Homo sapiens: one gene and its partners. The protein of the gene in region 1 interacts with the protein of each later gene in a pairwise test. Each region holds a gene or a part of one and is shown on either strand. Other genes may lie near its edges.

Region 1 (7,955 bases):
ATCACTTGAGCCCAGGAGTTCAAGACCTGCGTGGCAACATAGTGAGACCTCATCTCAGAAATAAAAAATTAGCCAGGCATGGTGGCATGCACATGTAGTCACAGCTACTTGGGAGGCTGAGGTGAGGTGGGAGGATTACTTGAGCACAGGAGGGCGAGGCTGCAGTGAGCTATGATTTTGTGCCACTGCACTCCAACCTGGGCAACATAGTGAGACCCTGTCTCAACAAAACAAAACAAATGCTTCTCAGTTTTATACTTTTCCTTTCTCCTTTTTAAAAAAGAGTATATATTTTCTTGAGACAGGATCTTGCTCTGTTGCCCAGGCTGGAGTGCAATGGCATGATCATAGCTCAGCAATGTTGAACTCCTGGGCTCCAGCAAACCTCCCAGTCAGCCGGGCGCAGTGGCTCATGCCCGTAATCCCAGCACCTTGGGAGGCCAGGGAGGGCGGATCACAAGGTCAGGAGATCAAGACCATCCTGGCTAACAAGGTGAAACCCCGTCTCTACTAAAAATACAAAAAATTAGCCGGGTGTGGTGGCGGGCACCTGTAGTCCCAGCTACTTGGGAGGCGGAGGCAGGAGAATGGCATGAACCTGGGAGGCGGAGCTTGCAGTGGGCCGAGATGGCGCCACTGCACTCCAGCCTGGGTGACAGAGCAAGACTCCGTCTCAAAAAAAAAAACAAAAAAAAAATCCCAGAGTCTCGCTGTCATCCAGGCTGGAGCACAGTGGCACAATCATGGCTCACTGCAGCCTCAACCTCGCAGAGCTAACTTTTTTATTTTTAATTTTTATAGAGAAAGGGTCTTGCTATGTTGCCCAGGCTCATCTCAAACTCCTGGCCTCAAGCAATCTTCCTGCCTCGGCCTCCCAAAGTGTTGTGATTACAAGTGTGAGCCACCGTGCCTGATCTAAAAAAAAAAAAGAGTCTTATTTGAAGGAGTAACACAGAGTACCAAAAATTAAAAGATAACTGGAATTAGGTTAGGTTGCCTTCAATCTTTATTATCTGAGCCAAGAGTAGGGTGACAACCATCCTCAAAGATGGTCTCCATTCCTGCCTCTTAACGTTATGTAGATCCCTCCCAACTAATAGAGCTAGCCAGTGCAACCAATAAGATTTATGAAAATGACTGAGTGTGACTTCTGGGATTTTCGCCTTGCTCTTTCTGGGATCATTCAGTCTGGAGAAAACCAGCCACCATGTTGTGAGGATACTCCAGCAGCCAGCCCTAGGGAGAGATCCATGGGGCCAAGAATTATTGGCCAGCATCAGCCTGCCAGGCATGGGAGTTTAAGTCACCTTGGAGGTGGGACCTCCAGCCTCAGTCAGGCTTTCAGATGACTCTAGTCCACATAGAGATCCTAAATGTAACCTCATGATATTCCAAGCTAGAACCACCCAGTGAAATCACCTATCCATTCCAAACATAAAGAAACTGTGTGAGACAATAAATGTTTCTATGACAAGTACAGTAGCATTTCAGACCTTTGTTTGAGGGCCTGATTCTGGATATTTCTGTGCTGTTTACCACTGCTCTCCTCTTCCCCTCTCAGTGCTAGAGATGCAGCTTCCTTTCCCACGTATAAATAAGGTAACAGGGTTCAAAAGCAGGGCGAGTTAATAAAAAGATTTATCAGTCACCTTTTATGTTTAATAATGCTAACATTTGCTTCGAGGCCTCTAGGACTTACCCTTAAAGCTATTAGTTGTCTGAAATGTGAATTAAAATGCCTTTGACTTTAGTGCCCTACTTCTTAAATAAGGGGAAGACTCACATTGTAAATTACTGTGGTTTTCAGTTTATCAAGATAAAGGAAAAACTAATCATTACTTTTTTAGCTTGGCTATCTCAGTGCCCACCCAAACCCAGAACTACAGCCTACAAGACCTAGAGCTGGAATTCAGGTTTGGTCATTAGTGACCTTGTATCTCAGTTTCCTCATCTATTAAAAAAAAGAGCTCCATTACTCAGCTACCCCACAGCACCCAACCATTCATCTTCTGGTTTCTTCAAGAGTCCTGTTTTTAAAAACCATGAAACTGTCTTCCAGTTCTTGGTAAGACTTGGTGAGAATTATATTCCAATCCCAGGGATGTCAGTAACAACCCCATAGTCTTTCCTCCTGAACTAGGAAAGCTACAGAAAGGCTCTGGCAGAGCTGCCCAACTTGGGCACTACTGATGTTTGACGCCAGATACTTCTTTGCGGTAGGTGTCATTGTGTATACCGTAGCAGGGCAGCATCCCAAACCTCCATCCACTAGATACCAGCAGCACTCCCACTCCCATATGTGACAACCAAAAATGTCTCCAGACATTGCCAGATGTCATCTGGGGCAGAATCACCCCTGGATGAGAACCCACTGGGCTGGGGGATGGTTGCTAGAAAAACTGGGGTTCTTGGAAAGCTCCTGACCTGGCAGCCAGGGTAGAGGGGACTGGCACTACCTTCTTGCCTATGCCAACATAAAGTGGTCTACAAAGGAGCCCCACAGACTCACGTTGCATTCTCAGTTCTCAAAATTCCAAGTAGAATGCAGGTTACCTGGCAACCACACACGCTCAAGCCTATAATACCCTCACCAAACAGGGAGGCCTAGTGTAAGTCTCCTGGCCGAGAAGCCTCATCAGTCACTGCCAAGGCAAACCCAGGAGGCCTTGGCAATTCACCCAGTGATGATTTACAGTCGCCCAAGCATATTGCGGGGGGCGGAGAGGGGCTCTCGGATCTGTCACCCACTCTCCCTTTCAAATCCCATTGGCCTCCCACTGGCCTCCCTGGCTGATCTTCTAACAAGCCAGGCAGTTCCTGCCCGTAAGCCTTTTACAGCAAAAGCTCCCTGGGCCAGATATCTTTATTCGCTCCCTCCATTTAGGTCTCTGCTCAAATGTCACCTCTTTACAGAAGGCTCCAACCACTCCACGTAGTGGAGCGACCCCCGCACGGTACTGACCACCCTAAAATATATCCTACACTCGCTTATTTGCCTATTAAGATCCTCGCCTCTAAGCTGCTTGAGGAATTCTTGTCTGTATTCCCAATACCCAGTCTGTACCGGACACGGTTCATTTGACAGACGCAGAGGGAATTAACATGGAACCTTGTCATTCCTTGCAGTTCAGCCCCTAGGGGCCCAAGGCTCCCCGCTCAGCCCAAACCCTTCCAATATTTACTTATCCCCCTAGGGCCTGGCGCCTTTCCCAGTTCTGAAATAGACAAAAGGGGGTGGTGGGTGGGATCGGGATGGGGGTGTAGAGCTGCGGCGTTTTTGCAGAGAAACTGCGCGGGGGAGGACGCGACAATGGCGACGGCAGCCGAGCCTGCTGCCTGCTCGCAAGGACCAAGGCCTGAGAAAGGGAAACCTAAGGCGTCGAGGTCCAGGAGCGCAGGCCAGGGACGGAGGTGGTGGGGGCGGAGACCTCGTGCGCTGAGGCCCGGACCCACGGACACAGGCGACAGAAGCCAAGACATCAGGCGGCCGGGAGCCGGGACGCCGGCTGCAGACACAGAGAGCTGAGGCAACGAGGCGTGAGGGCAGCGACCCTGAGGCGACGGGCCAGCGGCGCCATTTTGTGACCGCAGGGAAGGCAGTGACGGGGCCCCAGGGGAGGTGCGGGCAAGCCTGGTGCGGCATCCGCACGTCCCTGTCCCATCCCCCACGCAGAGCCCGACCCCACCCTGCCAGGCCCACCTGTGTAGCTCATGGTGGCGGGCAACACAACATCCGACGACGCCGGCTTCTGCTGCTCTGAACATCCGACGCTGCGATAGCTGCTGCTAACCACAGGGTCCCCTCCACACACACCCGAGCCCCGCCTCCCGACCGCATTGGCTCATACCGGCCTCGGCTTCACGTCTATTGGAAGGAACCGCTGTCTATCTCTATGCCTCCTCATATCAGTGGCTGGAAGCTGCTGGCAATCTCGTGAGAGCCCCGCCTTGTCCCCGCCTTCTGTTATTCTAAGGCCTCAGTGATTGGCCTACAGAAGCCGGCAGAGAGGCGGAGTCCTATAGAATTTGAGGGGGCGGAGCTGTGCACTACGGAAAGGCCCAAGGCCCAAGCATGGTCGGGCTGGAGGAGCGCCCGTACCCTGGAGACCCGCCAGAGGGAGTCGGGTCTACGGCTCAGGGCAGGGCTGGGATGCCAACTCCGCCACCGAGGTGCTGGGTAGGGGACCTAGCTAAGTCTCTCAAATTCTCTGGCCTTCGGCTCCAAAACAAGCATAGCAAAGCCATGTTGAGAAGAGAAAATTAAAACAGCACCAAACAAGATGCTGGACACACGTTTCAACATTACGTGACAAAGTGTGTGTAAAGAAATCATTCTGGTGCCAGTGCACTGAATAAATGTGATTAATCGTAACAAAACGATAATATATTTATATGGCATATGCTTATATGTGTAATAATTCCGTTTGTATTGTGTGTCATTCGAATGCTCCTTCAAACCTGCAAAAAGCTTTTAATCCTCACTTAAAACTGAAGCTTGGAACTCATGATTTGCTCAAGGTCCTTGACAGTTACGTGTTAAAATGGGAGCTTTGCTTCTAAAACCCTCCTGATTCACTCTGGGCTCGAGAGATCCTGCAATAGTGCAGCCGGGCACCAGTCATGTCCTCAGTCTGTTTCCTGGGCATATGGAAACCCTGCCAGGGACAACTCATAATTTCTAGAGATGACAGAGCTGCACCGAAGAGTACTTAACACGTGTGTTTGTGAAAACTCATTAAGCTGCGCAATTACGACTTCTACGCTTCGTGTGTTTTAAAACTTTTTTTAAGGTATGCTGTTTCTTTTTGATATTGTTGATTTCTTTAGGTGTAATAGTGGCATTTACAACGTTGAGAGAAACATACTGAAATACTAAGAAGTTAACTGATCTTATGGCCAGGATGTGCTTCACACAATTCAGACAGGTAGAGAGAGGAGGAGGAAGCAAGGAGCTATAAGATAAATCTCTGACAGCTGAAGACATTGGTCATGGGTTGGTGATGGATAGATGAGAGTCCATTTTACTGTTTGCTCTACTTTTGTATAGTTGGAATTCTCCATGATAAACTGTTTTAATAAAACTCCCCCCACCCAAATGAGGCTTCTGCAGAACTTGCTGCCATACGGAACAAAGCCACTTCTGATGTGTTAAGTGAGCAAACTCCAAACATGAAGCAGAGATCTGACGGATAAGCACTCTGGCTTCGGGGTTCATCTCCCCATCAGCCTCAGGGATGCCTGCCTGTCTTCCAAACCAAGGCAGGGCCCCAGGACACGTCTTCTGCGCCCTGCAGGTTCGTTCCTTCATCGCACTTGCCACAGTCATCATTGTACCGATTTGATTTCGTTCACATCCAACACCCTCAGAGACCACGGCTCAAAAGCTGAGACTTTGCTGCCTGAGGTGTATTGAAGTGGCTTGAGCAGAGAAGAGCAATGCTCAGAAAGTTTTAGGAAAACATCCCCCTGCAAGAACTGGAGGTGACTCTTCCAAGGACACACATGACCCTCACTTCACTGCATGATTGGTGGGGAGGAACTTGCCATATGACTTTATAAGCTCTTGTATCATTTGACTGTTTTTTGTCACATCTAGCCTATACCACTTTTATATTTCAAAAACTGACTTACGGGCCGGGCATAGTGGCTCACGCCTGTAATCCCAGCACTTTGGGAGGCTGATCACTTGAGCTCAGGAGTTCAAGACCAGCCCGGGCAACATGGTGAAACCCCCGTCTCTACAAAAATTACAGATATAAGCCAGGGGTGGTGGTGCATGCCTGTGATCCCAGCTACCTGGATGGCTGAGGCAGGAGAATCACTTGAACCCAGGAGGCAGAGACTGCAGCGAGCCGAGGTCCCTACACTGCACTCCAGCTTGGGCAACAAAATGAGACCCTGTCTCAAAAAATAAAATAAAAAAATAAAAACTGACTTATGAAAAGTTGAAAGAGGAAGAAACACCTTTGAGTCAGCTCACAAGATGCTCTCCCTGCTTCCTAAGTCCTGGATACATCCACCCACCCACAGCACAGGATGGAGAGAAGTGGTTGCGGCCTTCTGCCACCAGGCGAGATGTGCGTCCTGACCCCACAGGAGCAGACGTGTGGGCCAAGACCACCCTTGTGGGCGTTATTGCAGCCTGTTAATCCCTCCTTCCCAGGAAGGGGTATGGTGGGAGGGCCCAGAAAGCAGGGCTGGGGGTAGAGGTGGCCCCTTCTGTCCACACGCCATGAGGTCGTTCCCACTCTCCAGCACTTGACCGTTTAGTAAAAACGATGAGCTGAAAAACCACATGCAATAAACAAGAAGGAGCAGCCAACAAAATCTCTTAAAATCTCAGAAATGTTCAATAAACATTTGCAGAGCGAGAAAATAAATAACATCGCAAAGGAGCCAGTGGCTCCTCTTTTCCCCGCATGTTCCTTGGGTCAGGGGTGCATGTGTCTCACTAGAAGTCACATGTATTAAAAGCAGGTGAGTTCCAGCTCTCTACAACCCCACTGGCCCCCACCCAAATGCTCCCAACGGGTCCCTGACACCCTCGCTGGTAGCTCCTGCCTTTGATAAGCTCCTCTAGCCTCAACTGCTTCTTGATCCTGGCTCCCTTCCCAGACAGGCTGCCCAGAACCCTGGTTCATCTGCTCACTGGAGCCGCTTTGCCAGCCAGCCAGAGACCCCCTCCCAGCCATGGCCTAAAGAGCCAACAGCTGGGAACTTGGGCTCATCCCCAGCTGCGTCTGGTCGGCTTGGCGGCCAACTGGAAAACCCAGGGCCTCCATGGCGCTCTGGACAGAGGAGGCCCCGATCCCAGCCCCGGCTGCCAGCCAATGCCAGCCTGTCCACTTGACAGAAAAACACACGCTGGCCGCCTGCCCCAGGGTGTTTCCAGAAGAGAAATTTAATCTAATTTACATACTTCTAGGTACATCGATAACCAAAATGTGGCCACTGAAAAAAGTTAAAAGGTCAATCAGCTCCTGGCTTCTAGCTGGCCCAGGATTGCAAAATAAAAAGATCCACGTTCCTTATTCTCTACACAAAACGCGTTTTTAAAAAAGTGAAAGGTCTAGGGAGCTATACATAGAAAGCAACAGTGAAAAGGGAGAGGGAGCAGGAGTGGGGGAGGAGAGTCCCACCCCCCAACCCCACCCTCCAGGGCCCCAGAGCCCCTGAGGCTCTTTGGGGGGCCTTGACATGGCAGGAGGCAGCTGTCAGCTCTGAGCTCTTCCCAGCTGGGAAGGCCCCTCTCGGGGGCAGCCAACAAGGATTTCCGTGGCATTGTGGGCTCAGTGGGGGGCTCCCAGGCCCCAGCAGGCCCCACAGAGGGAGCGTGGCTTCCCCTGAGCAAGCACCGTGGCATGATGTGGTCGTTCAACCCAGGAACTGGGGGTCCGGGGCAGGTCCCGGGTCTCACGAGGTGCGTGTTGTGTGTGTTCGCATGTACATGTGTGTGAGAGGATATTCATGGGGGAGAGAGGGAACCAGAACAGGGGTCTTTGGGGTCTTTGCAAATGGCCACGGATGGCAGACATCGCCCTGCCTGGCTGCTAGACGGGGGAGTGCTGTCCTCCCCTGTGACCAGACCGGCTGCCATCAGAGACCTGGCTGCTGCCCCTGCTGGACCAGGTGGGCATGGGCTGAAGGAAGACACCCTGTGGCCCCAGAGTCCTCGGGCTGGGGGAAGGGCAGCTAGCTGGCTCCCGGCGCCCTGGCTGTAGTGTGCCCGGCCCCCAAGGGGCGCCGGTTTGAGGTTTTGGCTTGCTCCTTTGGAAACGGAAAGAAAGAGGAAGAGGGACAAGGACACAGAGGAGGAAGAAGAGGAGACAGAGGTGGCACGAGAGGGGATCTGGAATGCTTTTGTGTTAGGGAGCCTCTGCCGCCGCTGTCTGTGCCTGCGGGGCCTGGGACTCCTCAGGTGGGGGGTCCGCTTTGGAGAAGTTCATCTCCAGGAT
Region 2 (8,256 bases), on another chromosome or scaffold:
AGTCATTGTACCACTGCACTCCAGCCTGGGTGACAGAGCAGGATGCTCTTTCAAAAATAAACATAAAAGTAAATCTAATGAGCTCTAGGATTTCTAATTTGAAGATAGAAGCGATAAACAAAATAAGAAACCAAAATACATTCTGTTTTGATTAAAGCAGAGGTCAGCCATAACTCTGAACCTAAAAAGGAGGTCACCTGAAGCAGCTGTGAGTAAGCAGGGTAAGATAGGAAGCAGAGAACCGATGCTCATTGCCAGATCTTAGGAAAAAAATAATAAATTAGGATGACATACTTTTGCAAAATTAAAGAAATCCCCTGAGGTGCTAATACAAAATTTCATTTGTGATAGGACTAATAAAGAAATTCAGCTAGTAGTGGGATCTGTCGTGGACTGAGTTTGATTCCAAGAACAGAAGAGGCAGGACCAGTGAGAAATAGCACAGACATATTTGCAAAAGCAGCCCTCCCACGTTAGGAAGAAGGGATACTTTTGCACAGTGAACAGCACTACAACTGCTCATGTCTTTCATGTACTATCACACATGGAATGACTGAGATAATCCTGTGTTCCACACATAGTCCTCCTCCCATCCCCCACCACTTAGGCAAGAGCTGTGCCCAGGAAATGTCACCCGTAACTGGTCTGCACAGACCCTGTCTTCTAAAAGGGTGCTGTGCCTCCACCAGACCCCATGAGCAATACATTTGTCAAGCACACGCGAGACATGCCAAGGCCAAGGCCTGACTGATTTGACAGTAAAGACACAATGAGCCCCTCTCATTCAGAGCTTATTACTCACAGAGTGAAAATAAGAGAAGTCTGAGGTGGCAGCTCCCTGCCATCCTGGTGCCACACACTAAAAAGGACAGCACCGAAACAAAAGGGGTCAGAGGGCATGCATTGCAGGACACCCAATGCAGAGGAGCCCCTTGAGACTGCAGCTGGGTGGTGTCCTCATCTGCAGCTCTGTTGTGAGGGCCAGGGGCAGGGCAGTGAGGAACCCTCACCAGGGCCAGTGAGGCAGGCAGTGAGGAACAGTCTTGGGAGACAGAGGAAGTGACCAGTGGCCTGGGTGCAGCCTGATGTTCTGGGAGGAGCAGGCTTAGGTCAGGTGCTGTGTGCACCTCTGTGTGGCCTATGGGGATCCTGCAATGGCTCAGGGTCTCACGGCAGAGCTGTTTCTCTGCCCACACAATGGACTCACAACCTGACACACGAAAATTCACAGAGAAACACAGAAAGGCACACGTGACACTCAAAGACAGACCCACACAAAAGCCATGCAGCAAAGCCTTTTGCCACACATGCACATGCACACACACACACACAGGCTCCCATCCTTTCAAACCACAGACTTGGTGTTTGCCCAGACACACCTGTGTCAGAGAAAGGGGATCTGCAGCTCCCCAACATACACCAGTCACTCCACACTAACCCAAGGTGTCACCAGCCAGCCTGGAGGACTTGGGAAGCTAAGTGGAGGTGGACAGTGGCCACAGAGCAAAGGCCTTCAGTGGATACCACCTGATGTAAAGAGCCATGGGGTCCACCATGTGCACGCACACAAGGGGCACACATGTCTGCGCACCAGCTCCCCCATTCCTACACACATATCACCCATCCCTAGGGCTCTGGGGGATGAGACCCCTCCCTGAAGACCCACAGGAGTCCCCATGCCTGAGTGACCCACTGCTCACGTCCATGCAAAAGAAAAGAACTTTTTATCTGAGGAATGCGAGACCCCTTTAATTATCTGGCCCAGAGAGTCACTGGACTGAAACAGCAGTCACATGTCACTCCCACTTGAGCTAACGACCTCTTGAAGCCAATTGCTCTGTGGGTTCCAGACTGACACCAAGTAGACATAAAAAGCCAGACGCTGGACACCATAACTCTTCCCCTGTAGTCCAACACCTTATAGCCAGTCACTAAGGTTCTCTCTGGAAAGCAGTCAGAATTCCTGCTGACTTCATATCAGCCCACTCCTTGTCCCCTTCAGTCTTTAAAAACTTGCTTGTAATAAGGCTGAATGAAGTACTCCCAGGGCAACTTGGTGTGTCCTGGGCAGCTCTCTCAGCCTTGGTCCAGACAAACTCTCTATATGAACTGTGGTTCAGTTTGTTTCTTTAGGTCGACATCCACATTAGGGGAGCAGTGCTGCTGGGCTGGGGAAGCTGGTTCAGGTCAGATGTTGCACCAAGGGTTGGAGAAGGGGCCTTCCTGCATCAGCACCCGGACAAGGCAGAGGAGCAGGTGTCCAAACCCAGGCCTGGTCTGCTGCTGCTGTGGCTCACAGCCCCCACCCCACCTGGCAGACCTGGCAGACCCCGGAGCTGGCGACAGTGTTGCCCAGCTGGCCACAGACATATCATCACGTGGGGCTGCCCTATATGCTCCCAGTCTCCACACAGACACCCTTCATGGACTGGGGGACTGAGGGCAGGGACACTGGTGAAACAGGCAGGCATCTTCACCCAGCTACTCATCCCACTCACCACCTCCGGGGGAGGTGACAGTGACCAAGCCCAGCCCCAGCTGGCTCCTGGTCACTCACTACAGACTCAGCTCCCACAATCTCGAATCCCACCTCCAGCTCCTGCCATTCCGAGGGACCTGGAGGCCAGGGTGCCCGGCGCATGACCAGCTCTGGGTTGTGGACCGCCCTCCACGGCAGTGGCCTGAGCGCTTGTTGTCATTATTCACTTTATTCACTCCTGGTTTCTGTCTGGAAGGGATCACAAAGACATGGCTTGCAGGGGAGCCAATCCTGCCAGGGACTGAGGAAACAGATCCTGGAGAAAACCAGAGACTTTGCTGGCACTTCAGGGGGACCCCAGTTGGCTCAATGCCCCCCTCTCCCCCATAGCCAACTGCTAACCAATGTTCTCTCTGGAAACCAGTCATAATTCCTAACCTGGTCAAAGCAGGGTCATCTCACACAGCCCAGCCACCCATTCTTTAGCACCGCAGGCAGCTAAAGAATGCCTGGTGAAATGCAAGTCTGATCGTGTCTGCGTCCCCAAGCCCTTCCGTGCCCCCTGCTGCTCTTTGGACAAGCCCCCAGCAGCCTCTGTAATGCACAGCACCCGCCCTTGTCTCCTGTGCTGGCTTCCGCAGCCTGGCCACACTGGTCCTCTCGCCCATCCACCTGACCTGACTCTGGCAGGGCCTTTGCAGGAGCCATTCCTCCACCCGAACCCCTCCTATTAAAACGTGTTCCTAGCCGGTTCAGCCCCAGCCTGTAGGGACCAGCCCCACATGGTCGGTGGGTCTCTCCCCGTGTGCCGCAACGAGAGAGTGTAGAAATAAAGACACAAGACAAAGAGATAAAAGACAGCTGGGCCCGGGGGACCACTACCACCAAAGCGCGGAGACCGGTAGTGGCCCCGAATGTCTGGCTGCGCTGTTATTTATTGGATACAAAGCAAAAGGGGCAGGGTAAAGAGTGTGAGTCATCTCCAATGATAGGCAAGGTCACGTGGGTCACGTGTCCACTGGACAGGGGGCCCTTCCCTGCCTGGCAGCCGAGGCAGAGAGGGAGAGGAGACAGAGAGAAAGATAGCTTATGCCATTATTTCTGCATATCAGAGACTTTTAGTACTTTCACTAATTGACTACTGCTAGCTAGAAGGCAGAGCCAGGTGTACAGGATGACTAGGCATAATAAAGGCAGACTAGGAGCGGGACCACTGAAGCACAGCATCACAGGGAGATGGTTAGGCCTCCGGATAACTGCAGGCAAGCCTGACTCATGTCAGGCCCTCCACAAGAGGTGGAGGAGCGGAGTCTTCTCTAAACTCCCCCGGGGAAAAGGAGCCTCCCTTTCCCGGTCTGCTAAGTAGCAGGTGTTGTTCCTTGACACTTTTCACTACCGCTAGACCACGGCCCACCTGGCAACGGGCATCTTCCCAGACGCTGGCGTCACCGCTAGACCAAGGAGCCCTTCTGGTGGCCCTGTCTGGGCATAACAGAAGGCTCGCACTCTTGTCTTCTGGTCACCCCTCACTGTGTCCCCTTAGCTCCTATCTCTGTATGGCCTGGTTTTTCCTAGGTTATGATTATAGAGTGAGGATTATTATAATACTGGAATAAAGAGTAATTGCTACCAACTAATGATTATTGATATTCATATATAATCATATCTAAGATCTATATCTGGTATAACTATTCTTGTTTTATATTTTATTATACTGGAACAGCTCGTGTCCTCGGTCTCTTGCCTCAGCGCCTGGGTGGCTTGCCGCCCACACCAGCCACCAGAAGCTCCCCAGCCCCGGCCCAGCAGCTGGTCTGGGGAGCGGGGAGAGGGCAGTCTGGGCTCGCGGTTCCGGCTGGGGGCTGGGCACCCCGGGGCGACCACGGCAGGCCCAGATGGGGACTCCGGTTCCAACTCTCCTGGCCCAGAGGCTCTAGGGTGGTCTTGTCTGTCTCACTCCGGGGGCAGAGAGGACGCAGACAGACCCCAACACCACTGCTCGGCCGCGATGGTGCCTTAGACCCAGGTCCTGTGGGCTCTGGCCCGAGACCCCTCCCTCTGGGAAGGCCGGTGACCGGGACAGTCCACCTCGCAGGCGCGCCGGCGCGGAGCCCGGACCTCAGCCCGCAATGACTCAGCAAGGGCCGGTGGGATTCTACATGGTCCTGCGATATCCAGGCGACGGAGTCTCGCCTCTAAAGTGGCCCGGGGAGCAGGAAGGTATGAGCCTCAGCTGAGCGAAACCCTCCTTGCAGCCACCACGGAGGGACGGGGCGCGTCTCCTTCTGAATGACGCAAGGGGCGGGGCGCGTGGTGGGGCGGGGAAGGCGCGAGGCGCGCCGCGATCGGGGACTGTCCTAAGACGGGCGGGGCGCGCTGCGCTAGGGACTGTCATAAAAGGGGCGGGACGCGCCGCGGTCGGGATGACGTGAGCTGGGGGCGCTCGTCGCTGCAGCCGGCGGCTAGCGGGCGTCCGCGCCATGGAGCGCTACGCGGGCGCCTTGGAGGAGGTGGCGGACGGTGCCCGGCAGCAGGAGCGACACTACCAGCTGCTGTCGGCGTTACAGAGCCTGGTGAAGGAGTTGCCCAGGTACGCGGGCGGGGCGGGCGGCGGCCTGCCGAGGCCGCATCGTGTCCCGCCGGGGCTCACCGCGCTCCTCTACCCCGCAGCTCATTCCAGCAGCGCTTGTCCTACACCACGCTGAGCGACCTGGCCCTGGCGCTTCTCGACGGCACCGTGTTCGAAATCGTGCAGGGGCTACTGGAGATCCAGCACCTCACCGAAAAGAGCCTGTACAACCAGCGCCTGCGCCTACAGAACGAGCATCGAGGTGCGCGGGGGCAGCGGGAGGAGGTGCCGCCTCCTCGGGGTCGGCGCCTCCCGGCAGCTCTTGGTATCTGTGCAGCTCGGCTCCTTCCTTGGGAGTGTTCGGAAGAGGTCCCTAAGATTAACAAAATCAAGGGCGCAGAGACTGAGACAGCGCCTTTTTGGTGACCAATGTGTCCAACGAGTTTTGTTTTCAGTTGCGCAGCACCCACCTTCTTAGCAGAAACTCCCTGTTCGGGCTTCCCTGTGCCCCACCCCCTTCCAGGCCTGATGGCCCTAGGCCTCCGTGCTTGGTTGGCCGGCAGGCTGACTCTGGTGGTAGATCTGACTGCGTTGCCCTCCGGTAATTGGAGTTCTGTTGACAGGTGAGCAGCGCCCTTGGGTAGTTGGAGGTCTGTTGACAGCTGTGCGCGCCCTTCAGGGTCAGTTCCCTCTCAGGCCTGCAGGGCCTCATTCTAGTTGCACATCAAATTCCTAAGCACTGTCTCCTGTGGCGCCCTCCCAAACCAGAAGAGCTTCCCACTTGAGCCGCATGCTTCCTGGGCTTCGGAGCCCTTTCCTGCAAATTATATAGGGCAGGTCCCCCTGCACCATCAGATTTCCACCTTTGCTGTTTTATTTTTCCCAAACTTCTTATTTTAAAAGTTCAAACATTTGGAAAAACTGAAAAGACAGTGTAGTGCATACGCTTGTGCTCTCCACCGAAAGTTCAGTAGTTAACATTTTGCTCTAGTTCTTGACATCCCAAAATACATACATGTGACAGCATAGAATTCACCAAGAGTCTTCAGCATTCCTGGAGACCAGGATTTTCAACCCAGCCATGCTGACATTTGTGGCTGGGTAAGTCTTTATGGTGAGATGCTGTCTTGCGCATTGCAGGATGGCAGGGGTACCCTCCCTAGTCGTGAAAACCAAGAATGCCTCCAGACAACCTGGGTGGTGGGGTCAACCTTGGCCTTGGATTGGGAGCAAGTGCTCTAGAACAAGAGCGGTCTCCTACACAGCTGCAGAGGGTAGCCCCCTGAGAAATTAACTGTTCCAGGTGTCTCCTGACTTTCAGTGCATGGCCACATCATGGTACCTAACTTGTGGCAAATTGTTGCTTTATAAGTAAGGATCCAGTCCAAGTTCATGTACTACAATTGGTTACTTTGGTCTCTTTGCTTCTGGAACAGTCCCCAACATTTATTGTGGCATTGACTTTTTATAGAGTCTAATTCTATAATTAGAATGCCCTGCTCTGGATCTATCAGAGGAAATGCTTCCTCGTGCATTTAACCTGCTTCTCCACTCTCTGGGTTTACTGTACACTGGACTCCTGGTAGGAGCCTGATTAGAGGCAGGTTTAATGTGGCAAAAATTCCTCCTAGCGGGGCAAGGCCCCCTTCCCCAGAAGGCAGGCAGTGTCCATCTGCTCCAGGATTGGTGTGTTTCTATCAAGAATGGATGTTGGATTTTGGCAGTTTCCTTTTTGGCAGCTCTTGAGATGATCACGTGGTGAATCATTTTCTATTACTACAGTGAATTACAGTCACTTGAATTCCATCCTACTGGGTCGTGCTGTAGTATCCTTTTTATGTATGCTGGATTTGATTTGCTAAAATCTTGTTAAGAATTTTTTTGTCTATGTTCATGATAAACTGTGGTCTATAGTTTTCATGTAATACCTGGTTTGGGTATCAGGGTTTTTGCCAGCCTTATAGGATGAGTTTCGAAGTGTTCTCTCCTCTTCAGTTTTCCAGAAGAGTTTGTGTAGAATTGGCATTACTTCTTCCCCTAAATGTCTGGGTGACTGTCTTTTTAAAAATTTTATTGAGCTGTAAGATGCATGCAGTTTACTAATCCCAAGTGCATGGCTCATTATTCCTTAATGCTCAGACTGTGCCATGTGTGGCCAGTTGGGGGCGCTCCAGGCACCTTTAGATGCCGCCCCATCATTCTGTGAGCACTTTCTTGCTTTCTGGTTCAGGTATGTGTTCAGGCTCATCTTTTCTTGTTTTCTCCGTGTCTCAGTCCTGGAATCGGCCATTTTTCCACAGAGTTGTAGTTCTTTCTAGCAGGATGGGGAGTTTCAGTAACTGCCTGGGCCCAATGCTGTTTGTGCTTCAGAAGGTTTGGGCCAGGTCCTGGTTCCACCAGCAGCAGGCATGCCTGCGTTGACTTTCTGCTTCTCCTGCTGATTTGGCAGGGGTGACTGGCTGCTCCTGCCTCCTTTGTGTTCCCGGTCGTGTCTAAGGCCAGGCCCCTTCTGCCCAGGCAGCCGGCGTGGCTCTCTTCTTGCCTTTTGGTTGCATATCTAGTGGAATCTCGTAGTGGACCTGGCACTTGTAGCAATGTTTGATCAGTAGAGTGAAGATGATGACATTTCCCTGCTTCCCTGTGTTATGGAGCTGTCTTGAGGGGGGCTTTTGGTAAATACCATCGTCGAGGTGTGTACAGAATGCCAAGAAACAGGAGATTGGGGAAGGCTGTAGGCACAGCTGGAGCCAGGCTACCTGCAGGGGAGCCTCAGGGGCCGTGGAGTTCCCTGGAGACTTGCCACCAGAGAAGAGCTGCAACATCAGGGCTCTTCCCAGGAACAGAGTGTTGGATTTCACGTTTTGTTGTGGCCAGGGACCCCTCCTTCCTGGGGAACTGTAGCCATTTGGCACTTAATGCACTGGCGCCAGCTGCGGGGTGCTCCATGTTCCATTTTGCCATGATGGTTTATGTCCCATGATCGCTTCCTCTGTACACTCCCTTCAGACTAGAGTTTGCACATCTGTGTTTGTGCACAGTTTAGCAGGGACCGTGGAGCTTTGCTTGGTGGCCGAGGGTGAGCCCCTCAAAGCCACACAGACTCCCTGGCCCAGAGCCTCACAGGCTTATGACACCCCAGGTTCATCCCAAACTTGGGCCTCCCAGGTCAGCTCACCCTTCTCCCTCTGGTGCTGTGTAGGGGCTGGGA
Region 3 (7,778 bases), about 30 Mb from region 1:
TTTGTATTTTTAGTAGAGATGGGGTTTTGCCATGTTGGCCAGGTTGGTCTCAAACTCCTGACCTCAAGCAATCCACCCACCTCGGCCTCCCAAAGTTCTGGGATTACAGGTGTGAGCCACTGCGCTCGGACAAGGGCCAACATTTGACGAGGTTCTGAACTATATGGATACTGCACCACACTGCTGGATCCTGAGGAAGTGAGAGAGAGGTCTGGGAGAGAGCTGGGGTGTCTGGGCACTGGTGGACACTTCCCTGAGACTCTCTCCAACCAGGACAGCAGGATTTTCCAGTTCAGCCCCCAGCCTGGTAGGTTTCCTCAGTCTGTACTCACCTGGGGTCTCATTCATGCTCATGGGCTTGAACAGTTTGCATACAGGGGCTCCCAGCTTCCTGGGCTCAGCCTGAACCTCTCGCCTGGGCTCCAGACTCCTGTCTCCAGCTGTGTACTCTCAATTGTCGAAAAACGCCCCAAACTCACTTGCTCGGAGCTGGGCTTCTGATCCTCCCCCACCCTGCTCCTTCCTCAGCCACCCCCATCTCAGCTGATGCAGCTCCATCCTCCCAGCTGCTCAGGTTAAACACCTTCACTGTTTTGTTTACTAAGACACCATCCACATACAGAAGCTATCGTCTCTGCCTTCAAATTAAATACATACAACTTCTTTCTTCCTGGTCCCCCACCCTGGCCCAACCACCAGTATCTCCCACCAGGACCACTGCAGTCATCGCCTCCCTGAGGGCTCTCTGCTTCCACCCCTGTCCCTGACAGTATCTTTTTCCACCAGCAGCCTGAGGGGTCCAACCAAAATACAAGTCAGTTAGGCTACGGGAAACAAGCTAGTCACAAAGAACCACAGATCACAGGGGCCATTTATATGAAATGTCCAAAATAGGCAAATTTGGCCGCATGTGGTGGCTCATGCCTGTAATCCCAGCACTTTGGGAGGCCGAGGCGGGTGGATCACCTGAGGTCAGGACTTCAAGACCAGCCTGGTCAACATGGTGAAACCCCATCTCTACTAAAAATACAAAAAATTAGCCGGGCATGGTGGCATATGCCTGTAATCCCAGCTACTGGGGAGGCTGAGACAGGAGAATCGCTTGAACCCGGGAGGCGGAGGTTGCAGTGAGCCATGATCGTGCCATTGCACTCCAGCCTGGGCAACAGAGCGAGACTCTGTCTCAAAAATAAAAATAGGCCGGGTGTGGTGGCTCACGCCTGTAATCCCAGCACTTTGGGATCTGAGGTGGGCAAATCACCTGATGTTGGGAGTTTGAGACCAGCCTGACCAACATGGAGAAATCCTGTCTCTACGAAAAATACAAAGTTAGCTGGGCATGGTGGTGCATGCCTGTAATCCCAGCTACTCAGGAGGCTGAGGCAGGAGAATCGCTTGAACCCGGGAGGCAGAAGTTGCAGTGAGCTGAGATTGCATCATTGCACTCCAGCCTGGGCAACAAGAGCGAAACTCCGTCTCAAAAAAAAAAAAAAAAAAAAGGCAAATCTATAGAAACAGAAAGTAGATGAGTGGCTGCCGGGGGCTGGGGGAAGACAGGGAAGATGGGAGATTGGGGATGGCTAAGAGGTGCAGGGTTTCTTTCTGGAGTGATGAAAATGTTCTAAAATTGATCGTGGTGATGGTTGCATAACTCTGAATATACTAAAAGCCATTGAATTGTACGCTGTATTTTATTTTACTTTTTTTTTTTTTTTTTGAGATGGGAGTCTCACTCTGTCGCCCAGGCTGGAGTGCAGTGGCGCGATCTCAGCTCACTGCAAGCTCCGCCTCCTGGGTTCACGCCATTCTCCTGCCTCAGCCTCCTGAGTAGCTGGGACTACAGGCGCCCGCCACCACGCCCGGCTAATTTTTTGTATTTTTAGTAGAGACGGGGTTTCACTGTGTTAGCCAGGATGGTCTCGATCTCCTGACCTCGTGATCTGCCCACCTCAGCCTCCCAAAGTGCTGGGATTACAGGCATGAGCCACCGCGCCTGATCCTGTACACTTTATTTTTAATTTTTATTTATTTTTTATTTTTTGAGACGGAGTCTCGCTCTGTCGCCCAGGCTGGAGTGCAGTGGTGTGATCTCGGCTCACTGCAAGCTCTGTCTCCTGGGTTCACACCATTCTCCTGCCTCAGCCTCCCGAGCAGCTGGGACTACAGGTGCCCTCCACCACGCCCGGCTAATTTTTTTGTATTTTTAGTAGAGACGGGGTTTCACCATGTTAGCCAGGATGGTCTCAATCTCCTGACCTTGTGATCCACCTGCCTTGGCCTCCCAAAGTGCTAGGATTATAGGCGTGAGCCACCGTGCCTGGCCTTAATTTTCATCTTTTTTTGAGACACAGTCTTGCTCTCTCGCTCAGGCTGGAGTGCAAAGGTGAGATCTCGGCTCACTGCATCCTTAATCTCCCCAGCTTAAGCGATCCTCCCATCTCAGCCTCCTGAGCTTCTGGGACCACAGAGGTGCGACCCCACACCAGGATAATTTTATTTTTTTGTAGAGATGAGGTCTCACTATGTTCCTCAGGCTGGTTTCAAACTCCTGGTCTCAAGCAAATCGTACACTTTGAGGTGATTGTATAGTGTGGAAATTATATCGCCATATATATATACATTTTTTTCTTTTTTCTTTTTTTTTTTTGAGATGGAGTCTCATTCAGCTGCCCAGGCTGGAGCTCAGTGGTGCGATCTCGGCTCACTGCAACCTCTGCCTCCAGGGTTCAAGAAATTCTCCACCCTCAGCCTCCTGAGTAGCTGGGACTATAGGTGCACACCACCATGCCCAGCTAATTTTTGTATTTTTAGTAGAGACGGGGTTTCACCATGTTGGCCAGATGGTCTCGATCTCTTGACCTCGTGATCCACCCACCTCAGCCTCCCAAAGTGCTGGGATTACAGGTGTAAGCACTGCGCCCGGCCTTATATTGCAATATAATTGTTTAAAAAAACACAAGTCAGATATTGTTTCTATGCTCAAACCGTCCTGTGGCTCTCACCTCACTCAGGGTAAAAGCAAAGTCCTTGAGGCCTCTAGGGCCCTGCACGATCTTCCCCCATTGCCTTCCTGACCTCAGCTCCCATCCCTCCCTCTTGGGTTACCTGGCTGTAGCCACGGTGGCCTCCTTGCTGATCCTCAAACACATCAGGCCTACTTCTTTTCTTTTTTTTGAGACGGACTCTCATTCTGTCGCCCAGGCTGGAGTGCAGTGGTGCAATCTCGGCTCACTACAACCTCTGCCTCCTGGGCTCAAGCGATTCTCTCACCTCAGCCTCCTGAGTAGCTATAGCTGGGACTACAGGTGTGCACCACCACGCTTGGCTAATTTTTGTTTTGTTTTTGTAGAGACAGGGTTTTGCCATGTTGCTCAGGCTGGCCCCATCTCCTTCTTTTTTTCTCCCCTAACCCTACCTGATTCCTCTCCCAGCACTTATCTCCACCTGGCACGGTATGGCTCTGTGTCTGCTGTCTGTCTCCTCCTCCTGATGTCAGCTCCATCAGGCAGGGCTTTGTATTGCTCCCTTCTGTTTACCCGGCGCCTAGAACAATGTCCAGCACAACATTTTTTCTTTAACGAGAAAAGAACTGGGGCTTCCAGAGACTCAGCGCTGATTGGGTCCCAGGCCCCAGAGTGCCCAGCACCCACAGGAGAAAGTCCAGCCTCTTCCCACGGCTATGGGGCCTCAGCACTTGCCCCCAACTCCGCCTGTCTTCCCACATGTCGTTCCCTGGGCCAGGCTCACACTGCCTCTTGCATCAGCTTGGATGTTTTTTTGGATGTTCCTTCCTCGGGGAAGCTGGCCTCCTGCTCCTTGGCCAAATCAGATCACCCTGCTCTTCTCTCAAAAACAGCCAGCCAAAGAAAGAGAGAAGATAGAGAAAAAAAAAATAACAAAAACAAAAAACCAACCATCCAGGCCGGGTGCGGTGGCTCAGCCGGTAATCCCAGCACTTTGAGAGGCCCAGGCAGGCGGATCACCTGAGGTCAGGAGTTTGAGACCAGCCTGGCCAACATGGTGAAATCCTGTCTCTACTCAAAATACAAAAATTAGCCGGGTGTGGTGGTGCACGCCTGTGATCCCAGCTACTTGGGAGGCTGAGGCACAAGAATCGCTTGAACCCTGGAGGCCGAGGTTGCAGTGACCCAAGATCACACCACTGCACTCCAGCTTGGGCGACAGCAAGAACCTGTCTCAAAAACAAACAAGCAAGCAAACAAATCAGCCACCTCCTACCCTGACTGCTGGGAGTCCAGCCTCCCTGGGCCAGCCACCAGCAGGAGGTAGGGAGGCTGGGAGACAGATGAGTAGAGCGGACAGTGACAGGACACCTGCTCCCGCCAGGCCCTGGGCTAAGCTCCCCTCTTAAGTGATTCCACCTAGTCTTCCCAGCCATTCTCTGGGGTAGGTGCTACCATGATCATCGCCCCATTTTATAGATGAGGTGATTTGAGGCTCAGAGAGAGGTGTCATAGAGTGATATGCAGAAAAGGGATTTGAACCCAGGTTGACTCCAGAGTCCATTCTTTTTTTTTTTTTTTTTTGAGACGGAGTCTCGCTCTGTCGCCCAGGCCGGACTGCGGACTGCAGTGGCGCAATCTCGGCTCACTGCAAGCTCCGCTTCCCGGGTTCACGCCATTCTCCTGCCTCAGCCTCCCGAGTAGCTGGGACTACAGGCGCCCGCCACTGCGCCCGGCTAATTTTTTGTATTTTTAGTAGAGACGGGGTTTCACCTTGTTAGCCAGGATGGTCTCGATCTCCTGACCTCATGATCCACCCGCCTCGGCCTCCCAAAGTGCTGGGATTACAGGCGTGAGCCACCGCGCCCGGCCTCTTTTGTTTTATAGAGATGGGAGCCTCGCTATATTGCCCAGGCTGGTCTCAAACTCCTGGCCTCAAATGATCCTCCCGCCTTGGCCTTCTAAAGTGCTGGGATTACCGGTGTGAGCCACTGCTCCTGGCCAGAGTCCATGGCCTTTTTTTTTTTTTGAGATAGAGGCTCACTCCATCACCCAGGCTGGAGTGCAATGGCGTAATCTCAGTTTCCTGCAATTTCTACCTCCCAGTGCAAGCAATTCTCCTGCCTCAGCCTCCCGAGGAGCTGGAATTATAGGCATATGCCACCATGCCTGGCTAATTTTTGTATTTTTAGTAGAGACAAGGTTTCACCACATTGGCCAGGCTGGTCTCAAACTCCTGGCCTCAAGGGATCCGTGTACCTCGGCCTCCCAGAGTGCTGGGATTACAGGTGTGAGCCACCACACCAGGCCAGAGTCCATGCTCCTAACCATTCCTTGGGCAAGGGCTGTGGGCCTGGGGTGTGAGTGACAAATCTTCCTTATAAGGAACGTGGGAATTGCAGAAACGTGGCTTTTCCAGTCTACTGAGTAAAAAGGAACAGAAAGTAGCCCAGCCTTCATGCCCACAAGGCTCACAGGAGTCACAGCAGTGCCCCTGCAAGAGTTTGTTTTTGGTTGTTTTGAGGAAGGGTCTCACTGTGTTGCCCAGGTTGGAGTGTAGTGGTGCGATCATGGCTCACTGCAACCTCCGCCTCCCAGGTTCAAGGGATCCTCATGCCTCAACCTCATGTGTAGCTGGGACCAAGGCGCCGGCCACCATGCCTGGCTAATTTTTGGATTATTTTGTAGAGATGGGGTCTCACTTTGTTGCCCAGGCTGGTCTTGCCCTCCTGGGATCAAGCAATCCTCCCACCTCAGCCTCCCAAAGTGCTGGGATTACAGGCATGCCTCTGTGCCTGGCTTCCACTGTTTAAAAGTTAAAATCATATTTATTTGCAAACTTTGGATCTCAGTTTCCCTACTTGTTTTCTTTTCTTTTTTTTTTTTTTTAAGACGGAGTCTCGCTCTGTCACCCAGGCTGGAGTGCAGTGGCACAATCTCGACTCACTGCAACCTCCACCTCCCAGGTTCAAGTGATTCTCCAGCCTCAGCCTCCTGAGTACCTGGGACTACAGGCGTGTGCCACCACGTCCAGCTAATTTTTGTATTTTTTAGTAGAGACGGGGTTTCGCCATGTTGGCCAGACTGGTCTTGAACTCCTAACCTCAGGTGATCCGCCCGCCTTGGCCTCCCAAAGTGCTGGGATTACAGGCATGAGCCACCGCAGCTGGCCCTCAGTTTCCCTACTTGTAAATGAGTGTGTGAGCTGGTACTACACAGAGTGCTGGGATTTCAGGCGTGAGCCACCATGCCAGGCCTGTGTATGGTTCTTTTTTTTGTTTTTTTTTGAGACTGAGTTTTGCTCTTGTTGCCCAGGCTGAAGTGCAATGGCGCGATCATGGCTCACTGCAACCTCTGCCTCCCGGGTTCAAGCGATTCTCCTGCCTCAGCCTTCCTGAGTAGCTGGGATTACAGGCATGCGCCACCACGCGTGGCTAATTTTGTATTTTTAGTAGAGACGGGGTTTCTCCATGTTGGTCAGGCTGGTCTCGAACTCCCGACCTCAGGTAAGCCACCTGCCTCAGCCTCCCAAAGAACTAGTATTACAGGCGTGAGCCACCGTGCCTGGCCAGGCCTGTGTAAGATTCTAATCGAGGATGCTCTACGCGTGTTCCTGCCTCAGAGCTTTTGCACGTGCTGTTTCCTCTAGTCTAGCAGGAGTGCCCTTCTCCCAGATGTCTGTCAGGCCTACTCTATTCCCATCTCTACTTGAATTTCACCTTCTCAGAGAAGCCCTCCCTGATTACCCTGTCTGTATAGCCCCCTTCCATGACTCACCATCCTCTGAATATGACTTATTTATCCTCTTAGTTCTCACCACCTCCTGGTATACAGTCTGTTTTGGGACTTCTTTGTGGTCTGTTTCCTCCAACTACATAGAATGTCAGCTCCAGGTCGGGTGTGGTGGCTCACGCCTGTAATCCCAGCACTTTGGGTGGCCAAGGCGGGCAGATCACCTGAGGTCGGGAGTTCGAGACCAGCCTGACCAACATGGAGAAACCCCATCTCTACTAAAAATACAAAATTAGCCAGGCATGGTGGCGCATGCCTGTAATCTCGGCTACTCGGGAGGATGAGGCAGGAGAATTGCTTGAACCTGGGAGGCGGAGGTTGCGGTGAGCCGAGATTGCGCCATTTCACTCTAGCCTGGGCAATAAGAGCAAAACTCAGTCTCAAACAAACAAACAAACAAGCAAACAAAAAAAGAATGTCGGTTCCATAAGGGAAGGGGATTTTGTCTTTTTCTCTACATTATTCCCTGCACCTACCACAGCGTCTGCCTTGGATGAGGTTCTCAATATATATTTGCTAAACGAGTGAATGAAGTGGTAACAAGTTTCTGAAAAAATAAGTTGGCCATCTCTGCTCTGGTCCTATGGGGCCATCTCACAGATGGAAACACTGAGGTTTGATTCAAGGTTTGAGAACAAGGGTCCCATGTGATTGTGTCACCTTCCTGCTTAGGAGATTTTCATGCCTCCTGAATGCCCTCAAGAGCAAGTCCAGGCCGGGCGTGGTGGCTCAGGCCTGTAATCCCAGCACTTTGGGAGGCCGAGGTGGGTGGATCACCTGAGGTCGGGAGTTCCAGACCAGCCTGGTCAACATGGTGAAATCCCATCTCTACTAAAAATACAAAAATTACCTGGGCATGGTGGCAGGCACCTGTAATCCCAGCTACTCAGGAGGCTGAGGCAGGAGAATCACTTGAACCTGGGGAGGCGGAGGTTGCAGCAAGCCAAGATTTCGCCACTGCACTCCAGCCTGGGCAACAGAGCAAGACTCCGTCTCAAAACAAAAAACAAAACAAAAAAAATA
Region 4 (4,773 bases), on another chromosome or scaffold:
GCCAACCCCCATCATAAGGTGATTCTAAAGCAGAATATCAACCCCTCCTTCCTCCCCCACTGCAGCTGCAAACATTTTGTTTTGCCATTAGAAATGACTTACTTAAGGGAAGCAGAATTTTACAGGCAGTTTACAGGCTGGTCTTGTTCAGTAGTTTCCAAAAGCCAGGGGAGGGCGGAGGCGGCCAGCAGTCCCCACAAGTTGGGATGGATTGGAAGTGAGAAGTGAGTCCTGTGTGACGGACACTTTCTCCTGCACAGCCGCACGCCCCTCGGTGGGCTCTCGGCACGTTGCGGGCATTAGGGAGAAAGGCAGCGGGAGGCCCTCGCTATACTCTGATAGATCCAGCCCCCTCAGTCCTCCTGGAATAGCCTGGCCCTGGCTCCGAGGAGAGAAGAGGGGCTGTTGCTGGGCCCACAGAAGAAAAGGCAACCCCAGGCATAAAGAGGCTCTCAGCAGCCCCTGCCCGAACGCTCCTGGCAGGCAAGGGCCCCATAGCACCCTGGGGCCTCGAGGGTCACCGCAGACCCGGCCTGGGAAGAAACCCGTAGAGTCCCGCAGCCGCGGAGGGAGGGGGTTCTCGCTAAGGCGTCCCGCGGACAACGCCGAGAGGCACAGCTTAGCGGGTGCGCACCGGACAGGCTCGCAACGCAGGACGGTGCCCTCATGGGAGCCAGGCTGAGCAGGTCAAGAATGGTGGTGGGGAAGCGGGGTAGGCAGACCTCGGCGGGGGCTGCCTCGGCGCTCTGCTCCTACCCAAGGGGCCCGGTTCCCTTTCTACCCACAGTTCCCTTTCTATCCGCCTCCCTCCTCAGCCCAATGAAGCAGTCGGGGCTCAGCAGTGCTTAGCACGCTCGGACTATGGTTTTAATAGACGTACATGGACAAGTCGATATAGACAGATTTATTACAGTCAGTCCAACATACACAGGGACGCTGTAAACAGGGGCGCGGGCCGGAGAGCGGGTGTGCAAAGTGGGCGCAGGGCCCTGGGGCCGCGCCCCTTGCTCTGCCGGCTCGACTCTTGCACGGCGGGCGGTGAGGAGGGGGCTGTTCGCCCAGACAGAGGGCCACCTCCTAGCCCGGGAGCAGAGCAGAGGGCCTGGGCCTGCAGCTAAGCTCAAGGCTGGGGTGTTCTGAGATGGACCTCCCCCACCTCCCGCCAGGCCCGCACTGCCCGCTGTCGCTCCGTGGCCTTAATATAGGGCTCCGGGGCGCGGGGCCAGCGAGGCTCTACCAGGCGCGCCGGGGCCGTGTGCGGCTCCACTGAGTGCCCGATCCTGGGCTGGGGGCACCGTCCCCCCAAACCCAACGCCCGCCCCAACACGGATCCGACTCGAGCTAAGGCGCTCTCGGCCGGGCCTAGCTCGGAGAGGGCAACTTGGTTTGTACGGGGTCGGGAAATCCTAGGCAAGTCCAGGCCCCGCACATCCAGTCCGCAGGCCCGGCCACTCAGTCCGGATCCAGCGCGGCGGGGACGCGGGATACGAGGTCGTCCTCCCCCGGCCGCTGGGCCTCGGCGCTCGCCTACCGCGCCGCGTGCCCTCCGCGGAGTGGGCCTCCGGGGCCCGTGGGAACACACACACCACCCGCGCCATCCCGAGAGAAATTGCAACTCATCCATTTTTTCGCGGCACTTTTCTCCGACGTCTTTTTGCTTTTTTTTTTTTTTTTTTTTTTTTGTCTTTTTGGAGGGCAGAGTGGGGTCCGGAAAAGCAAACACAAAACCAACCCGGAGTGGGAAGTGGGAGGAGGGGGCTGCGCAGGTGTGAGGTCCGCGGCGCGGTGAGCTGGGGCTTGCGAGCCGGGGCCCCGCGTGCGTCCTCCGCGCCCGCGCCCGCGCCCTTCCCCGCTCCGGCCGCCGGCCCGCGTGGTGCGGCGGGGCGGTCAGCTGTTGTACTGGCACGCGTTGAGGCCCGAGGCCGGGCCCTGCAGGCCGCCGTAGCCAAACGACGAGTGCTGTTTGGACTTGAGCCGCAGGCTGGCTAGGCTCGAGTTGCACGTGTCCCGGTAGACGCTGTAGGGCGAGGCGGGAGTGCCGTACGGGCAAGCGCCCGGCGACATGGCCGAGTTGAGCGAGGAGCCGGTGAGGTTGTTGATGTTGTTGAGGCCCGAGTTGGGCATGCCAGGCACGGCGCCTGGGCCCATGCTGGACGGCATGGTCATGGAGGAGATGGAGCTGGGTGCTGAGAACATGGACTGCGACGACAGCGGGCTCATGGAGTTGAAGAAGGTGAAGCTCTTGGTGGAGAGCGGCGCTGGCGCCAGGCTCTTGGCGGCCCAGTTGTTGTAGGAGTAGCCGGCGGCGTACACGTCCTCGTAGGGCTGCACTAGGCCGCTGAACTGCGGCACGTAGCCACCCTTGCACAGGTCCAGCTGCTGGTTACGCTCGCGCTTACGCCACTTGGCTCGCCGGTTCTTGAACCAGACCTGGGGGAGGGGACGGGAGAAGGGTCAGGGCCGCTGCGGGCCGGGAGGGACCCCACCCCCTTCCCCACCGCCTGGAGCCTTCCGTCGGCCCGCTGCCCTCCGAACGTCGTTTCTCTCCTTCGACCGATATTTCCGCTCCTGCATTCCCTCCACAATGGTTCCTTTCCTGTCCCCAGAAAATACTAATTTCTTTTTCCGATCTTTATCCTCTCCCGAAATTATATCCGTTTTCTTCTCCGAATACGGATTCTCGTTTAACAGATATTCGTTTTCTTTCTTCCTCTCTCAACCAGTTCACCTCTGCCTTCTCCCCCAAACAGGTTCGCTCTATCTACTAAATATTTCAGTCTTTTTATTCTCCCTCAAATACAAAAGGTATTTTTCCTCCCTGAGACATAGGACTTTCCGACTCCCCCAATTCTTCGATCTATTTCATCGCTCAAATAGTTTGTTATCATCTTTATCGGCAATATTTGATGTTTTCTTTTTGGCTCCAAATGTTTATTTTCGTTCAGTCCACCCCACTGTCTGAACCTCTTTCTTCTCCCTCAGTCTGTTTTCTTGTTTATCCCCCATTTTTGATCCTTTTGAATCGTCCTCAAATATTAGGCTTTTGAATCCTTTCCAAATATCTGACCTGCACTGTTCCCCTTAAACAGTTGATTCTTTTTCTCAAATACCTGATCTTTTTGCTTCCTATTTAATTTCTTTCCTGCCGCCTAAATATATGCCAAATATGTTTCTCCACAAATATTTAAATTTTTTCTATTCTTACTAGATTCTTCTAATCTTCCTGCCCTTCCTTTTCTCCCCCCAAATTTGGTAAGAACCTCCTAGTCCTCCCCCATCCTTACCTATCTGCCTACCGCATGCCCTCTGCCCACTCGGATTTTCCTCCAGTTCTGAGTGGAGTTTCCTGAGCTAGTTTGCCAGATCCCTGCTTCTCAGCTTTCCCTAGTCCCCAGCACTGACACTACCTGATTCCACCCCCACCCACCCCTACCACCATAAACCTGGGCAGGATTAGTGAGTTCAGGATTACTGAGTGCTGTGTCTTCATTCCAAGTCCCACTGGGCTGGCCAGCCTGCCTAGGGAGGGGTGAGGGCTGGGGTTATGGTAAGGAGTCTGTGGGCCAGCTGGGATTTTGGTCGACTTGGGAGGTGCTCCCAATATCTGATTAAATATTTACGCCCCCAGGGAAGAAATGATTCTCTTGCTACCCTGGCAGGAAAGCCTTGCTTTTACTGGAAACCAAACGGGTGAGAAGAGGGAGAATGCAGGCTGGTCTTGGGTCTGAGATGGCATATCCTAAAAGGGACTGGGAAGGACATTTGGCTCCCGGAGCCACCCCCCACCTCACCTGACGGGAGACCTTCCGGAAAGGGCAGAAGGCAAAGGGTCCTACTGATGGCTGGGGAGGGTGGAGAATATCTTGAGCTTTTAGAGAATCTGCTTATGAGATGGGACCACTGCTCCAGGAAGTTTTGAGAGCCCCAAACCCAGGCACCTTTCAGGCTTCTCCGAGGCAGCCAGACAGGACCTGCCTTTCCCTTTCGTTTTCGGGATAAGGCCAACAGCTCCCGAGGTCCCCAGCGGCAGGGAATCCACTGCCCAGTCTCTGGCCCAGGGTATCCTGCTAACATCTGAGTGGGTCCTGGGCCCCATAGGGCATGGGGGAGTCCCCTGGGGGCACAGGTCTTTGGGCTGGGGTTGCCTTAGTCCGAGGATCAGGTAGGATGAGGGTCAAAGGGGTTGAAGGTCCGAGGCGCCTGGAGGCCTGGCAGACGCTAGTGGGCCAGGGCCTAAGGTGGGGATCTCCGGTGGAGGGAGGGAGCAGGTCTGAATGGTGGGAGAGTGAAGTTCTGCTTGTGGGTCTAAGCTTTGGAGGGCTGCAGCAGAGGCGGCCCGGGAGCCCTCTGCGCGGGTGCCCTTAGGCGCGCACCCCTTGCTCACCCGCACGCGCGGCTCGGTGAGGTTGGTCCACACGGCGATCTCCTCCCTCATGCTCATGTCGGGGTAGCGGTTCCTCTGGAACGTGGCCTCTAGCTCTTGCAACTGCTGGCTTGTGAAGTGCGTACGTTGCCGCCGCTGCTTCTTCTTCTTGGCTGGGTCGTCTGCGCCGCCGCAGCCCGTGCCTCCCGCACCACTGTCCTCGGGCCCCTTGGGTTCCCCGCCGCGCTCCTTCTCTGCAGTAGGCAGGACGGGGAGCGGGTCACCTGGGCTTACGCCCCGTTGCACCCCGTCCCGGCTCCACCGAACCGCTCGCCACCAGCGCTGGCGGTCTTCCCTCCCTCCCTCCCTCTAGGGTTCCTGGGAACTGTCCCCACTGGAAAGCGCCCGCC

What was found.
Region 2: the proteins of AKAP8L (region 1) and DGCR6 interact in binary tests that used the Homo sapiens proteins (3 or more experiments, as listed by UniProt).
Region 3: the proteins of AKAP8L (region 1) and MYPOP interact in binary tests that used the Homo sapiens proteins (3 or more experiments, as listed by UniProt).
Region 4: the proteins of AKAP8L (region 1) and PITX1 interact in binary tests that used the Homo sapiens proteins (3 or more experiments, as listed by UniProt).

The regions. Positions count from the first base shown.
Region 1 is NC_000019.10:15,415,211-15,423,165, forward strand, and holds the start of AKAP8L (A-kinase anchor protein 8-like), read right to left. Parts: upstream 3,779-7,955; 5' UTR 3,714-3,778; coding exon 3,701-3,713; intron 1-3,700. Other genes in the region: protein Wiz, read right to left, coding at 7,866-7,955. UniProt on the Homo sapiens protein: Could play a role in constitutive transport element (CTE)-mediated gene expression by association with DHX9. Increases CTE-dependent nuclear unspliced mRNA export.
Region 2 is NC_000022.11:18,901,416-18,909,671, forward strand, and holds the start of DGCR6 (protein DGCR6), read left to right. Parts: upstream 1-4,904; 5' UTR 4,905-4,959; coding exon 4,960-5,069; intron 5,070-5,149; coding exon 5,150-5,310; intron 5,311-8,256. UniProt on the Homo sapiens protein: May play a role in neural crest cell migration into the third and fourth pharyngeal pouches.
Region 3 is NC_000019.10:45,892,090-45,899,867, forward strand, and holds part of MYPOP (myb-related transcription factor, partner of profilin), read right to left. Parts: intron 3,544-7,778; coding exon of another isoform or gene 3,533-3,543; exon of another isoform or gene 2,380-3,532; intron 191-2,379; coding exon of another isoform or gene 81-190; intron 1-80. UniProt on the Homo sapiens protein: Transcriptional repressor; DNA-binding protein that specifically recognizes the core sequence 5'-YAAC[GT]G-3'. Dimerization with PFN1 reduces its DNA-binding capacity.
Region 4 is NC_000005.10:135,026,892-135,031,664, forward strand, and holds the end of PITX1 (pituitary homeobox 1), read right to left. Parts: intron 4,618-4,773; coding exon 4,385-4,617; intron 2,431-4,384; coding exon 1,888-2,430; 3' UTR 843-1,887; downstream 1-842. UniProt on the Homo sapiens protein: Sequence-specific transcription factor that binds gene promoters and activates their transcription. May play a role in the development of anterior structures, and in particular, the brain and facies and in specifying the identity or structure of hindlimb.